Linked DNA regions of Homo sapiens. The protein of the gene in region 1 purifies or fractionates together with the protein of each later gene. This does not show direct contact. Each region holds a gene or a part of one and is shown on either strand. Other genes may lie near its edges. The genes, in order: CREBRF and ATF1.

Region 1 (7,287 bases):
TGGGATTACAGGTGTGAGCTACTGCGCCCGGCCTGATTCATCAATTTTTGTAGTACTTTGGCATGACTGACTCAGTTCTGTTAATAATGATACATAAAAACGTAATCCCTGATTATTTGATAAACTTGAATTCTTACGTATAACTTTTGCAGTAAATAAGGGTATTAGCTTATTTATCAGTTCTTCTTTTTCTTTTTTTTCTTTTTTTTTTTTTTTTGAGACGGAGTTTCGCCCTTGTCGCCCAGGCTGGAGTGCAGTGGGAAGATCTCGGCTCACTGCAATCTCCGCCTCCCGGGTTCAAGCAATTCTCCTGCCTGAGCCTCCTGAGTAGCTGGGATTACAGGCGCCCACCACCACGCCCGGCTAATTTTGTATTTTTAGTAGAGACGGGGTTTCACCATGTTGGCCAGACTGGTCTTGAACTCCTGACCTAAGGTGATCTGCCTGCCTTGGCCTCCCAAAGTGCTGGGATTACAGGCGTGAGCCACCGCGCCTGGCCTATCAATTCTTATTTTATCAGGTGGCATTGTGTTGCTTTTGGAACCCTAGCCCTTACAATGCCCTAATTAGTTTAACAGAGAAGTATAGTGAAAATAAAAATAAACACTTTTCATTGATACTTAGAATATTCCAGGCAGTTTTCACTGTTGCATCGGTTGATAAAGTCAATCAGCATTGCTTATATAATGCTCTCTTATTCTAAGAATGGCAAATAGATGCAATAGAACTTATTTGGGTATAATTCCTTCATATGACTGGTATATCAGCTTTGGGTTTTTTATATTCATAAGCATAGAAGAGGCTAAATAGCTCCCGAAGAGAGTCTGGATGCTCCATTTACCATCATTCTCTGTCATGGCAGGTGAAAGCAAGCTTTTATATAGACAATGTTCTACTTAGTTTACAGGGTGTCTACTTAGTTTACAGGGTGGATGTGTGTGGGTTCTGGGATACTAGTGTAAGAAGTAAAGGAATAACTAGCATGGTTCCTGGTGGTGGTTAAATACAAGTGACAGTGAAGTACAGTAAGTTTGTGTGTTGATTCTGTTAATATAACTCAGTTTTTAAAAGATAAAGAGAACTGAAATCACTGTTTGCTTTTAAAGCTTAATTTTCAGTCAAGATCGGCATCTATATATTTATTTAAAAAATACATATATATATATATGTTTTTTTTTTTTTTTGAGACGGAGTCTAACTGCGTTGCCCAGGTTGGAGTCCGGTGGCGTGATCCTGGCGCACTGCAACCTCCGTTTCCTGGGTTCAAGCGATTATCCTGCCCCAGCCTCCCGAGTAGCTAGGATTACAGGCGTGCACCGCTATGCTCAGCTAATTTTTGTATTTTCAGTAGAGACAAGGTTTCACCAAGTTGGCCAGGCTGGTCTTGAACTCCTAATCTTAAATGATCCGCCCGCATTGGCCTCCCAAAGAGCTGGGATTACAGGTATGAGCCACCGTGCCCCCTCTAGTTATGTGATTTTGAAATGAATTAGCAGTCGCTTGTTTCCAAGTAGGGTTGAACTTGGATTTTTTTGAGGAACAATTCACTGACACTTTCACCATATTCAGTAGCTCATTTCGGGATAGGTAAACTCTTAGACGAGACATAAATTTGTCAGATAATTGGTTCTGATTATTTTAAGACAAGGGTTGACAGACTTTTTTTTTTTTTTTGGAACAGGATCAAATAGTTAATATTTAGGCTTTTTCAGCCTTCCAGTCTCTGCCACAACTACTCAACTTTGAATCTGTAGCATGGAAACAGCTGTAGAAAATATGTTCTACATATTTTTGGGCTCTATTCCAATAAAACTTTATTTACAAGGTCAGGCTGTGCCTCTATTTGTGCTTCCACGGCTATAGTTTGTCAGCCCCTGTTGTAAGACATCAGTCATTGAGGTTTTTTGTTTGTTCGTTTTTTGAGACAGAGTCTAGTTCTGTCCCCCCTGCTGGAGTGCAGTGGCACGATCTCGGCTCACTGCAACCTCCGCCTCCCGGGTTTAAGCGATTCTCCTGCCTCAGCCTTCTGAGTAGCTGGGATTACAGGCGCCTGCCACCGTGCCCAGCCAAGTTTTGTATTTTTAGTAGAGACGGGGTTTCACTGTGTTGGCCAGGCTGGTCTCAATCTCCTGACCTCCTGATCTGCCCGCCTCAGCCTCCCAACGTGCTGGGATTACAGGCGTGAACCACCACATCTGGCCCAGTCACTGAGTTTTAAGTACTTAGATGTTAAGGTATTTCAGAATATACAAATAGACACTTTAGGTACATTTGAGCATTTGCAGATTGTACAGTCTCCTGCCTTGAAGAGAATTTTTAGTACAAGAGCATATGGCAACATTGTATTTTGTATTTTTCCTTCGTTTACATATAAATGTTTTCTTGAAAAGCTGTTTAAAGCAAATATTGGTATAAATCCTGTTGATTTTAGAGATGCAGTCTGATTGAAAAAACTTTGGCCCTAAGATATATTCAGGATATGGTCCTCTTGAAGTTTCAAAGCACATTTAGCATATAATCCTTAACAAAGCTGTATAGCTGTTTCAAGAGATGATAGTCACGTGAATAGTCAACACATGTAGTTCTTATATTCAAATATGCAGTTAATTTAGAAGTTAAGACATTGAGTGCTCATTGCCTGAGATGCTTGAAGAATTAAAGAGAGTAGGATGCTTTTTCCAGGCCCAAAAAGATACAGGTTACCTCCTCTCTTTTTCCAGGGAAAATGTCAAGTCGTGCTAAGTGCCTAGTGAAGCAGAGATGCCGTAATCTAAAAATATAACTGGGAAATACTAAATTTTTTTGATAACTTTTGCTTTATTTTTAATGTAATATTTCACCATTTTTGTTGACTTGAACTGGATTTCAAGTGGAAGCGTAAAAGTTTAGAAAAGAGAATATATTGACCTTTATGAACTGAGAAACATGTGGCCTGCAATCTTGTTTCTAGATCTAGCTAACCTAGGGTCTGCCTGGATGACTACAGATAATCTCAGTTTATTAATTTGTAGTGGTAGGGATTAATGATGTTTTCCATCTCACAAGGGGATACTGGGAAATTTTTAGTTACTGTATTCTTAAAGTCTTGTACTTTGAATATGCTAATATTTCGGTCTGCTTGAAACCACTTCTCAAATCTGGATTCGATTTTCTCCTGGCTTATTTGTCTTCCCATTAAACTATGAGCTCCTTGAGGTCAGAGTCTGTGTTTTATTTCTATATATTCACTGCCTCACACTGTGCCTGATACCTTTTAGTGCTCTTGAACTGTTTAAATGAATGCATGCATTGCTGAGAACTGCTTATCTGGAAAGTAATAAAGTCTACTATTAGAGATGTTGGGCTTTTCTTAGTTAGAAAGGAGGAATTAATCACCGTCTGTTCAAACAAAAAGCCTTCATTCTAAAATTGATCCGTTCTTTTAAGAAAGTTTTTAGAGAAGCTATTTTGATGATGTTTAAAAATCTCTTTAGTTCCTTTGTTAATTTGTTTTCAGATGAACTCCATTAGTTAGACTTGTTGAATATTCCTTGCAGGTATTAAAAAAAAAAAGTTGTGCTTTGTTCTTTGGATTTGTCCTATTTGGCAAATGTGGATGGAATCTCTTATTTCATACAGGTTTGGGATAATTTTTCATCTACATAGTAGGGTCTTTTTTTAAGGAGGGCACTGTAAAATCATTCTTTTTTTTTTTTTTTTTTGAGACGGAGTCTTGCTCTGTCGCCCAGGCTGGAGTGCAGTGGTGGGATCTCGCCTCACTGCAAGCTCTGCCTCCCGGGTTCACGCCATTCTCCTGCCTCAGCCTCCCAAGTAGCTGGGACTACAGGCGCCCGCCACTACGCCCGGCTAATTTTTTGTATTTTTAGTAGAGACGGGGTTTCACCGTTTTAGCCGGGATGGTCTCGATCTCCTGACCTCGTGATCCGCCCGCCTCGGCCTCCCAAAGTGCTGGGATTACAGGTGTGAGCCACCGCGCCCAGCCTGTAAAATCATTCTTGCTAATAAGTCTGACTCACCTCTGTGGGGTAGGCTAGGATTTGGATCGAGTTTGACGCAGGGTGCGGCAGTAGTATCACCAGCCAAGCCTTATATGCATTTCACCAATTTATGACCTTTCCTCCAAAATCTATATTGTAACTCTCCTTCCTAAACAGCTTTCTAAACTACTGCTTTCCGTACTTAACTCTTGGCAACATAAATCATCCTACACTCTGTCCTTTCAACACCAAAACCACTTTTATATCTTTTGGGTATTACTGATTTTGAGAATTTCCTATGAAAGCCTCACAAATTTCCTGATTTCTTCTTCTCTATTTTTTTTGAGACAGAGTCTCACGCTGTTGCCCACGCTGGAGTGCAGTGGCGCCATCTCGGCTCACTGCAACCTCTGCCTCCTGGGTTCAAGCGATTTTCCTGTCTCAGCCTCCTGAGTAGCTGGTATTACAGGAGCACGTCACCACACTCAGCTAATTTTTTGTATTTTTAGTAGAGGTGGGGTTTCGCCATGTTGGCCAGGCTGGTCTTGAACTCCTGACCTCAGGTGATCCACCTGCCTTGGCCTCTCAAAGTGCTGGGATTACAGGCGTGAGCCACCACACCTGGCCTGCTGATTTCTTTTTCTTAATTTTTAATTTCTTGATTAAAAAGAATTTTTGTTCTTTTTGACTTTTTTTTTTTGAGGCGAGTCTTGCTCTGTCACCCAGGCTGGAGTGCAGTGGTGTAATCTCTGCCCCTGCGACCTTCGCATCCTGGGTTCAAGCAATTCTCCTGCCTCAGCCTCCCAAGTAGCTGGGACTACAGGCACCTGCCACCATGCCCGGCTAATTTTTATATTTTTAGTAGAGACAGAGTTTCACCATGTTGGCCAGGCTGGTCTTGAACTCCTGACCTCAAGCGATCTGCCTGCCTTGGCCTCCCAAAGTGCTGGGATTACAGGCGTGAGCCAATGCACTGGCCTAAAGTTTTTTTTCTTAAAGACTAGTGTGATAGTAAAGCTTGCTGTTTTTTTTGTCCTCCAGTTTTTTTTTAGATTCTTGTTGTACATATGTTTTCTTCAGTATAATATTTTGTCCTGAGGGTTTGAGGTGCTCCTTTTATAAAAGCAGTTTCTTTTTTGGCTGCTGATGGAATTGCTGCCTTTTCTATTATAGGTTAGTCATTTACTGAGAAATTTAAAGCATTACAAAAATAAAACGTTGATATGGGGAGGAATTAGGGGTAGGGTGGGTGTACTTTTGAAAAGATTCATTGTAGAATTCCTTAAAACAGCAAGGCTTCTAGCATCCTAGTGGTATGGTATAAATGAGGTGGACTCATGCAGTTTTTGTTGTTGTTGTTTGAGACAGGTCTTGCTCTGTCACCCAGGCTGAAGTGCAGGGGCACGATCACGGCTCACTGCAGCCTTGACTTTCCAGGCTCAAGCAGTCCTCCTGCCTCAGCCTCCTGAGCCTCCTGACTATCTGGGACTACAGGTGCGCACCACCACACCTGGTTAATTTTTTTTTTTTTTTTTTTTTTTTGAGACAGAGTCTCGCTCTGTCGCCCAGGCGGAGTGCAATGGCACAATCTCGGCTTACTGCAACCTCCACCTCCCGGGTTCAAGCGATTCTCCTGCCTCAGCCTTCCAAGTAGCTGGGATTACAGGGATGTGCCACCATGCCCAGCTAATTTTGTATTTTTAGTAGAGTCGAGGTTTCTCCATGTTGGTCAGGCTGGTCTTGAACTCCCCACCCCAGGTGATCTGCCTGCCTTGGCCTCCCAAAGTGCTGGGATTACAGGTGTGAGCCACTGCGCCTGGCCCACCTGGCTAATTTAAAAAATTATTTGTAGAGAGAGAGTTTTACTATGTTTCCCAGGCTGGTCTTGAACTCCTGAACTCAAGTGACCCTCCTGCCTCAGCCTCCCAAAGTGTTGGGGTTACAGGTGTGAGCCACTGTACCTAGCTGTACAGTTTTTGAACTGCTTTTTAGTAAGGTTTTCATCTTTACCTTTGAATCCTCTACTAGAGTTGCCCATAGACTAGGAGAGGAGACACACATTGCAGCCCAATGTTACGATGGTTTTTCAGAACAAAATGTTCTGAAATATGGAAGAAGGACTGCTAACTCTGCCTGGGGAAAGTTGAATATTCATTGAAAAAGTGGTGTTTGAACTTAGTTTTGAAGATTAGTGAAGGAGGCATTCTAGTACAGCTGAAGTATAAAAGATGTGTAGTGTGGGGTTGGGTATGAGATGGTTTGAGCTAAGGCAGAGGTGGGAGGGAGAATGGAAGAGGAGGAAACTGATGTGTAAGATTTAGGAGGAAATAGCTTTTTTTGCTTTCACTTTGTCCTCTAATTCTCTTCAGTCTGTTCTATGCTGTCAGGTCTCCAGTCTCTTTTCCCTGTAGCTCCCTGTACCTCTGACTTTGGTTGATTGGTTTTTTCCCCTAGTGTTCCATTTTTCTTTTAGTCCCACCTTTTCTAATGTGTTGGTACTAAAGTACCTTTCATTCTGACTCTATTTGTCTCTTGCGTTTATTTCACCTCCCACCCTCCCTCCCTCTCTCTCTTTATTCCCTTTGGGTTATATTTCTTTCCTTTTCTTTTCCTTTTTCTTCTTCTTCTTTTTTTTTTTTTTTAAAGACAGGATGGTGCAGTGGCACAGTCATGGTTCACTGCAGCCTTGACCTGGGGCTCAAGTGATCCTCCCACCTCAGCCTCACGAGTAGCTGAGACTACAGGTGTGTGCCACCATGCCCAGCTAATTTTTTTTGTAGAGACAGGGTTTCCCCACATTGCCCAGGCTGGTCTTAAACTCCAGGGCTCAAGCCACCCACCCACCTTGGCGTCCCAAAATGTGCGATTACAGGCGTGACCAACCGCACCTGGCCCCTTTGGGTTTCTCTTTGCCCCTACCTTTCCTTTTTATTTGCTTTATTTTATTTTTTATTTTTTTTGAGATGGGGTTTTGCTGTGTTGCCCAAGCTGGCCTCAAACTCCCGGTGTCAAACAATCCCATCTCAGCCTCCTGAGTAGCTCAGGCTGCAGGCGTGTGCCACCTCTCATTATCTTTTATTTAAAAGCAAAACAAAATAAATTCTTGCGCACTATCTGCTTATTTTACATGTAAATAGCAAAATAAGCTGATTCCCTCTTGGGAAATCTTGTAAGATCAACTAGCTTTTGATACCTGTTCAAAGACTAATTATCCATTTCTGTGAATTTCTTTTTATGAAACATTTTCCTTTGTATTCAAAGATGCTACTTCTTCAAAGGCCACAGTGTAGAATGTGACTGCCTATGTGCC
Region 2 (5,849 bases), on another chromosome or scaffold:
CCCAGGAAAATAATTTGTTATGCATTTATGGAACCATTAATGGTTTGCCCTGACCTGTTTCATACAGCTAGAGTAAGTAACTGGGTCTAGTTAGCAAGGCCCTACACCAGAAGTCTGAAGGCAGCAGAGTTTACAAATATTTGCAGATGTCCAGCTGTTAAGGCACTAAGAGCTAGGCTACCTCTGTTGTAAACAAGCACGGTGTCTACCCAATAATATATTATCATCTGTTGAAAAAGTCTTTTGACATAACCCAGTGACCTCATACCTCCTCATATTCTTAGGCCTAACGGGCCACCAGTTTGAGATTCTGGCTTTACACAAGGTAGTAAGTGATATAAGTAATCCCCCTGGCGATCAAACTTTTTTTTCTTTTCATAAAGTGCTGCCAAGTCAACAGAGTCCCATTTTAAAAGACCCTTCTAATGAGAAATTTCATCAGGAGGGTCAAACACAAATGTATCAGTTAAGTGAAGATTTCTACGTAGCATTAGGATAATTAACAGCATGGCCAGGAGCAAGCTTATCATTCATATACCAAGCATTATATTTTACATTCAGTAGACTATCAAATGTCCTTTAATTTCACAGACAACAATATGATGCATACTGTGTAAGAGCACACAATAGTTTTGCAGTACAATTTTAAACTGTATACAAATTGGAATATAGATGTTAAACGCTGGTGTACTGACAGTATTTTTGAATTTTAGATAAACTGCATACAAAATTTACAATGCAAATATTAGCCAATCTGAAAACGTCCCATAATATAAAAATGATACTTTGAGATGCAAATTTTACTAAACTATATAAACATTTAAAATAATCATTAAAAACTCAACATTAGAATTTATAAAGATCAGCTATAAAAATATATTGGCAGTCACTTTTCTTATAAAGGTACCACTCACTACATTACAAAATAGTCTCTAACATAAAATTGCCTTAATAACTATACTATTATAGAATCTGATAAACCTTACATTATTAAATTGATTATAAAATCTTCTTGGAAAAACTTTGGTATGTATCTTCAGAAGGTTTTTTAAAAATAATATTTTAAGGGCCTGTAAACATTCCATTCTATTAAAGCACAGCAGAATAAGTAATGGATATTCAACTGCATACAGAATATAGACTCAAAAAAACAATTTATTATGTATTTGTAGAAAATCATTACCAGAGTAAGCAAAAAAACCAACTATTTAAAAGTATCAAACTTTTAAACAGTTCTTTTTCCATTCTGATAAAAAATGTTATAAAATCACCATACTCCATTCATGTACCTTAGATGCCTTTTAGGATAAGACCTCAAAAATAATTAACCTAGTCTCAAAAATCCATTCAAGTCCAATAACAAACTTTTAAAAACCCACTTAAAAAGACTTGACACTAGAACAAGTATACATAATCAGAACATATACTTTATATATTTAGTAATGTACTAGGTTTTCTCTTACCTTTGTAATTTAGAATTTATTGGCAGAAATTACACACACACACACACATATATATAACTAAAAAAAGGTAAATTTCAGCAAACAAATGCAAACCTGTAGGGTAAATGGATTTTTAAAAAAAATTCAGTTTATCAAATTTCATCTTCTCTGCCATTTTAGATTGGCAACTATTGGTTATTTAGAAAATTTAGACTGCTGAAAGTTCATTTCTTGCTCCTTGAATATGTTTAATTTCTACAAAGCTTCCAGTTGTGCCCGTAGCTTCCTTGAGGTCATTTTCCACTTTCTCCTCTGTCACTAGATATCGTGCGTAAGATATTTATCCTTGATTTGGAAAAGCCTAAATAAAAAGCTTCAGTTTTGACCTTTTAATTTATAAAACTCCACTAGGAAATCCATTTAATTTTTATGCATGTCCACAAAAATATTTTCTTTCTTAGGAATCAAACACTTTTATTGGAATAAAGATCCTTCAAAGTTTTTAACTCTTCTATTAGAGTTTTATTTTGATTTTCCAGGACTGCAACTCGGTTTTCCAGGCATTTCACATATTCTTTCTTCTTTCTGCGACATTCTCGAGCAGCTTCTCTAAATATGAGCATTAAAAAAACAATGTTAGAAAAAACTTCACATTCTTTAAATGGTAAATGTTCTTCAGTAATTTTCCGTGGTCACCTTTTTTTCTCTTTAAAGTATCATCTACACACAGAGAATACATAGATCTTAAGTGTAGAATTCAGTCAGTTTTGGCAATTGTGTATACCTGTATAACCCACACCTCTGTCAAGACAACAGAACATTCCCACTGTCCCAGAAAGTTCCCTCATGCCCCTTCCTGGTCAGCCCCCTTCCAAGCAACTATCGTTTTGATTTTTATCACCAGAGATTAGTTTTTTTCCTATTCTAGAACCTCATGTAAGAGTGTCATACACTATGTACTCTGGTGTCCCTTCACTCAGCCCATCTGAGGTTCATCCATGTTGCTGCATGGGGGTTTGTTCCTTCACACTGCTGGACATAGTTCACTGTATGAATATAACCACCATTTGTGTATCCAGTCTCTTGCGATGTTTCTAGGGTTAGCTGCATAGGCATGTTTTTGTGCCAGTCTTTTTGTAGAAAGGTTTCATTTCTCTTGAATAAATACCAAAGAGTGAAATTATGGGTCCTCTGGTTAACTTCTGACACATGACTTCTTTTATTTAAGTTCAAATTACAAACAATGCTTGAGCAAATACTCAGTTCTGTGCATGTCCTCTTAAAACATTTCTGTGAAGTCATATGTAAGTTTATATACATATAGAAATCGGAAGTATTGGCCAGGCATGGTGGCTCATGCCTGTAATCCCAGCACTTTAAGAGGCCAAGGCGGGCAGATCACCTGAGGTCAGGAGTTCGAGACCAGCCTGGCCAACATGGCAAAACCTCATCTCTACTAAAAATACAAAAATTAGCTGTGGTGGCACATGCCTGTAATCCCAGCTACTTGGGAGTCTGACCCAGGAGGATCACTTGAAGCTGGGAGGTGGAGGTTGCAGTGAGCCAAGATCGCGCCACTGCACTCCACCCTGGGCAACAGAGCAAGACTCTGTCTCAGAAAAAGAAAGAAAGAAAGAAACAGTACTATTTTAAGATTTTTATGCTATATATGTAGATACTATTTGCAACTTGCTTTTTAGTACACATCTTTAAAAGGACTGTACAAAATCTTTCCCCTCACAAAAAGACTTTATTTTTACCTTTAAGCTCTGTTTGTTTGTTTGTTTTAAGTGGTTTCCAGTAAACATTCTTTTTCTTTTTTCTTCTTTTGTTTTGAGACAGGGTCTCACTCTGTCAACCAGGCTGAGTGCAGTGGCACAATCACAGCTCATTGCAACCTTGACCTCCTGGACTCAAGATATCCCCACTTCAGCCTCTCAAGTAGCTGGGACTACAGGTGTACACCACCACACCAGCTAATTTTATTTTTGTAGAGATGAGGTCTCAGTATGTTGCCTAGGCTGGTCTCACTCCTGGTCACGGTGTCGGGATTATGGGCATGAGCCACCCACTCAGCCTCCATTCTTTACGTGTATTTCTACACATGTATTTCTTGAAGGATCACAAGCTATATTCACTTAAAGTCAAGAGATAGTGCCAATTTATATTCATTGAAGTACAGAGAAATAAGGGGGGAAAAAAGGAAGGAAAAAAATCCCAGAGTCAAACCAGAAAGAAAAAAGGGAAAAAATGCCAGAATGTCCTCCAGAGTATTTGTACCATTTACATTCCCAGGGGCAGTACATGAGAGTGCCTGTTATGAACATTTTAAAATGGTTGTCAGTCTAGCGGCTGACAAAAAGCGAACCTCACTGCTTTAACATTTCCCTCATTATGCACAAAGTTTGGAATAATTTCATGTTTACAAGGCCATCTTTCACAGACCGGTTTCCTTCTGTTAGGTCTCTTATTTACAGAAATAAATCTTTATATAACCTATACATCTCGTAATTCTTTCTCTTTATATAAAAGTTGCAAATATTTTTCCCAGTTAACAGACTTATTTTTAAGTTTCTTTATGGTATCTTTTGTCACATACAAGTAGAAATGTTGGGGCAAGTAGATACCATAAAACTCCGTACTTCCCTCAGTAATGTATGTGAGGTACCCTTTTCCTTATATGCCCAATGACAGACAGTATTACCACTTTATAATTTTTGCTACGTGACATCTCATTTCTTATTTTTATAGTTGTAGTATATACGTATATGACCCTAAAACTGCTATCATTTATTTTCTAAAATTATAAAATATCATACTTTGTGTATTCTGTTGCAACTTGTTTTTTCATTCAATTTTTCTAAGATTTATTCATGTTGAAATGATTATTCATTCAGTCATTACAAATAAACATTCCATTCTATAAATACAGTCACAATTTATGTACCTATTCTTTTTTCCCCCCATTTTTATGTTTAGGCTCAATATGTACCTATTCTGTTATCAATGAATCTTGAGGTTGTTTCCTGATTTTTTGCTGCTATGAAAATTCTTATACATACTTCCTCCAAGTTCCTCTCAGTCACACAGACTAAAACAGCTGGGTCACAGAGTATACCCACGTCAACTGTACAAGATAAGGCCTAATTTCCAAAATGGCTGCATCAATTTACACTCCTATAGTAGTATCTATGAATTCCTGACCATTGTTCCAAATCCTTGCCAACTCTTGGTTAGACTTTAAAATTTTTGCCAATTGGGTGGGTATAAAGGGTATCTAAATGTGTAGCATTAATGTGTATTTCTTTGATTACTAATAAGGCTGAGTAGTCTTTTATATGATTATTAACTACTTGTGTGTTTTTTTTTGTTTGTTTTATTTTTGAGACAAGAGTCTTGCTCTGTTGCCCAGGCTGAAGTACAATGGCGTGATCATGGCTCACTGCAACCTCTGCCTCCAGGTTCAAGTGATTCTCCTGCCTCTACCACATCTAGCTAATGTTTTAAATTTTTTTTAGAGATGGGGTCTCCCTATATTGCCCAGGCTGGTCTCAAACTCCTGGGCTCAAGTGATCCTCCTGCCTTGGCCTCCGAAAATGCTGGGATTACACGTGTGAGCCACCACGCCTGGCCTGTATGGTTTTTTCCATTAAAATGTTTCTGTGCATATTTATGGAGCACATGAGAAAATCTGTTACATGTATATAATGTGTAGCGATCAAGTCAGGGGATTCAGGGTGTCCATCACCTGAGTATTAATAGGTTTTTGTTAAGGGTGGTCATCCTACTCTGCTATGAAACACTGAATTTATTCCTTTTATCTTACTGTGTATGGGTTTGTACCCTTTAACTCTCTTCATCCTCCTCCTTGCCCCTCACCGTTCCCAGTCTCTGTTACCTATTTTTCCATTCTCTCTTTTTTCTTGAGATAGGGTCTTGCTCTGTTGCCCAGGCTGAAGTGCAGTGGTGCGATCATGCTGCCTCAACCCCCTGGGCTCAAGCAATCCTCCCACCTCAGCCTCCCGAGTAGCTGGGATTTTAGGCACACGCCACCATGCCTGGCTAATTTTTTATCTTTTGTAGCAATGGGTATGTTGCCCAGGCTTGCATTGAACTCCTAGGCTCAAGTGATCCTCCCGCCTCGGCCTCCCAAAGTGCTGGGATTACAGGCATAAGCCACCACGCCCAGCCCTATTTTTCCACTCTCTACTTCCATGTGTTCAAATATTTTAGCTCCCACATATAAGTGAGAATGTGATATTTTTTCTTTTTGTGCCTGGCTTATTTCACTTAAGATACTGACCTTCAATTCCATCCATGTTGCTGCAAATGACATGATTTAATTCTTTCTTATCCATTTATCCACTGATGGACACATAGTTGATTCTATTAGCTATTGTGCGTGAA

The links.
Region 2: the proteins of CREBRF (region 1) and ATF1 purify together in Homo sapiens (affinity purification with mass spectrometry; 2 studies listed by BioGRID and IntAct, with this or other methods). This does not show direct contact.

What each region holds. Positions count from the first base shown.
Region 1 is NC_000005.10:173,059,065-173,066,351, forward strand, and holds part of CREBRF (CREB3 regulatory factor), read left to right. Parts: intron 1-1,348; exon of another isoform or gene 1,349-1,444; intron 1,445-7,287. UniProt on the Homo sapiens protein: Acts as a negative regulator of the endoplasmic reticulum stress response or unfolded protein response (UPR). Represses the transcriptional activity of CREB3 during the UPR. Recruits CREB3 into nuclear foci.
Region 2 is NC_000012.12:50,815,837-50,821,685, reverse strand, and holds the end of ATF1 (cyclic AMP-dependent transcription factor ATF-1), read right to left. Parts: exon of another isoform or gene 5,746-5,849; intron 2,052-5,745; coding exon 1,907-2,051; 3' UTR 524-1,906; downstream 1-523.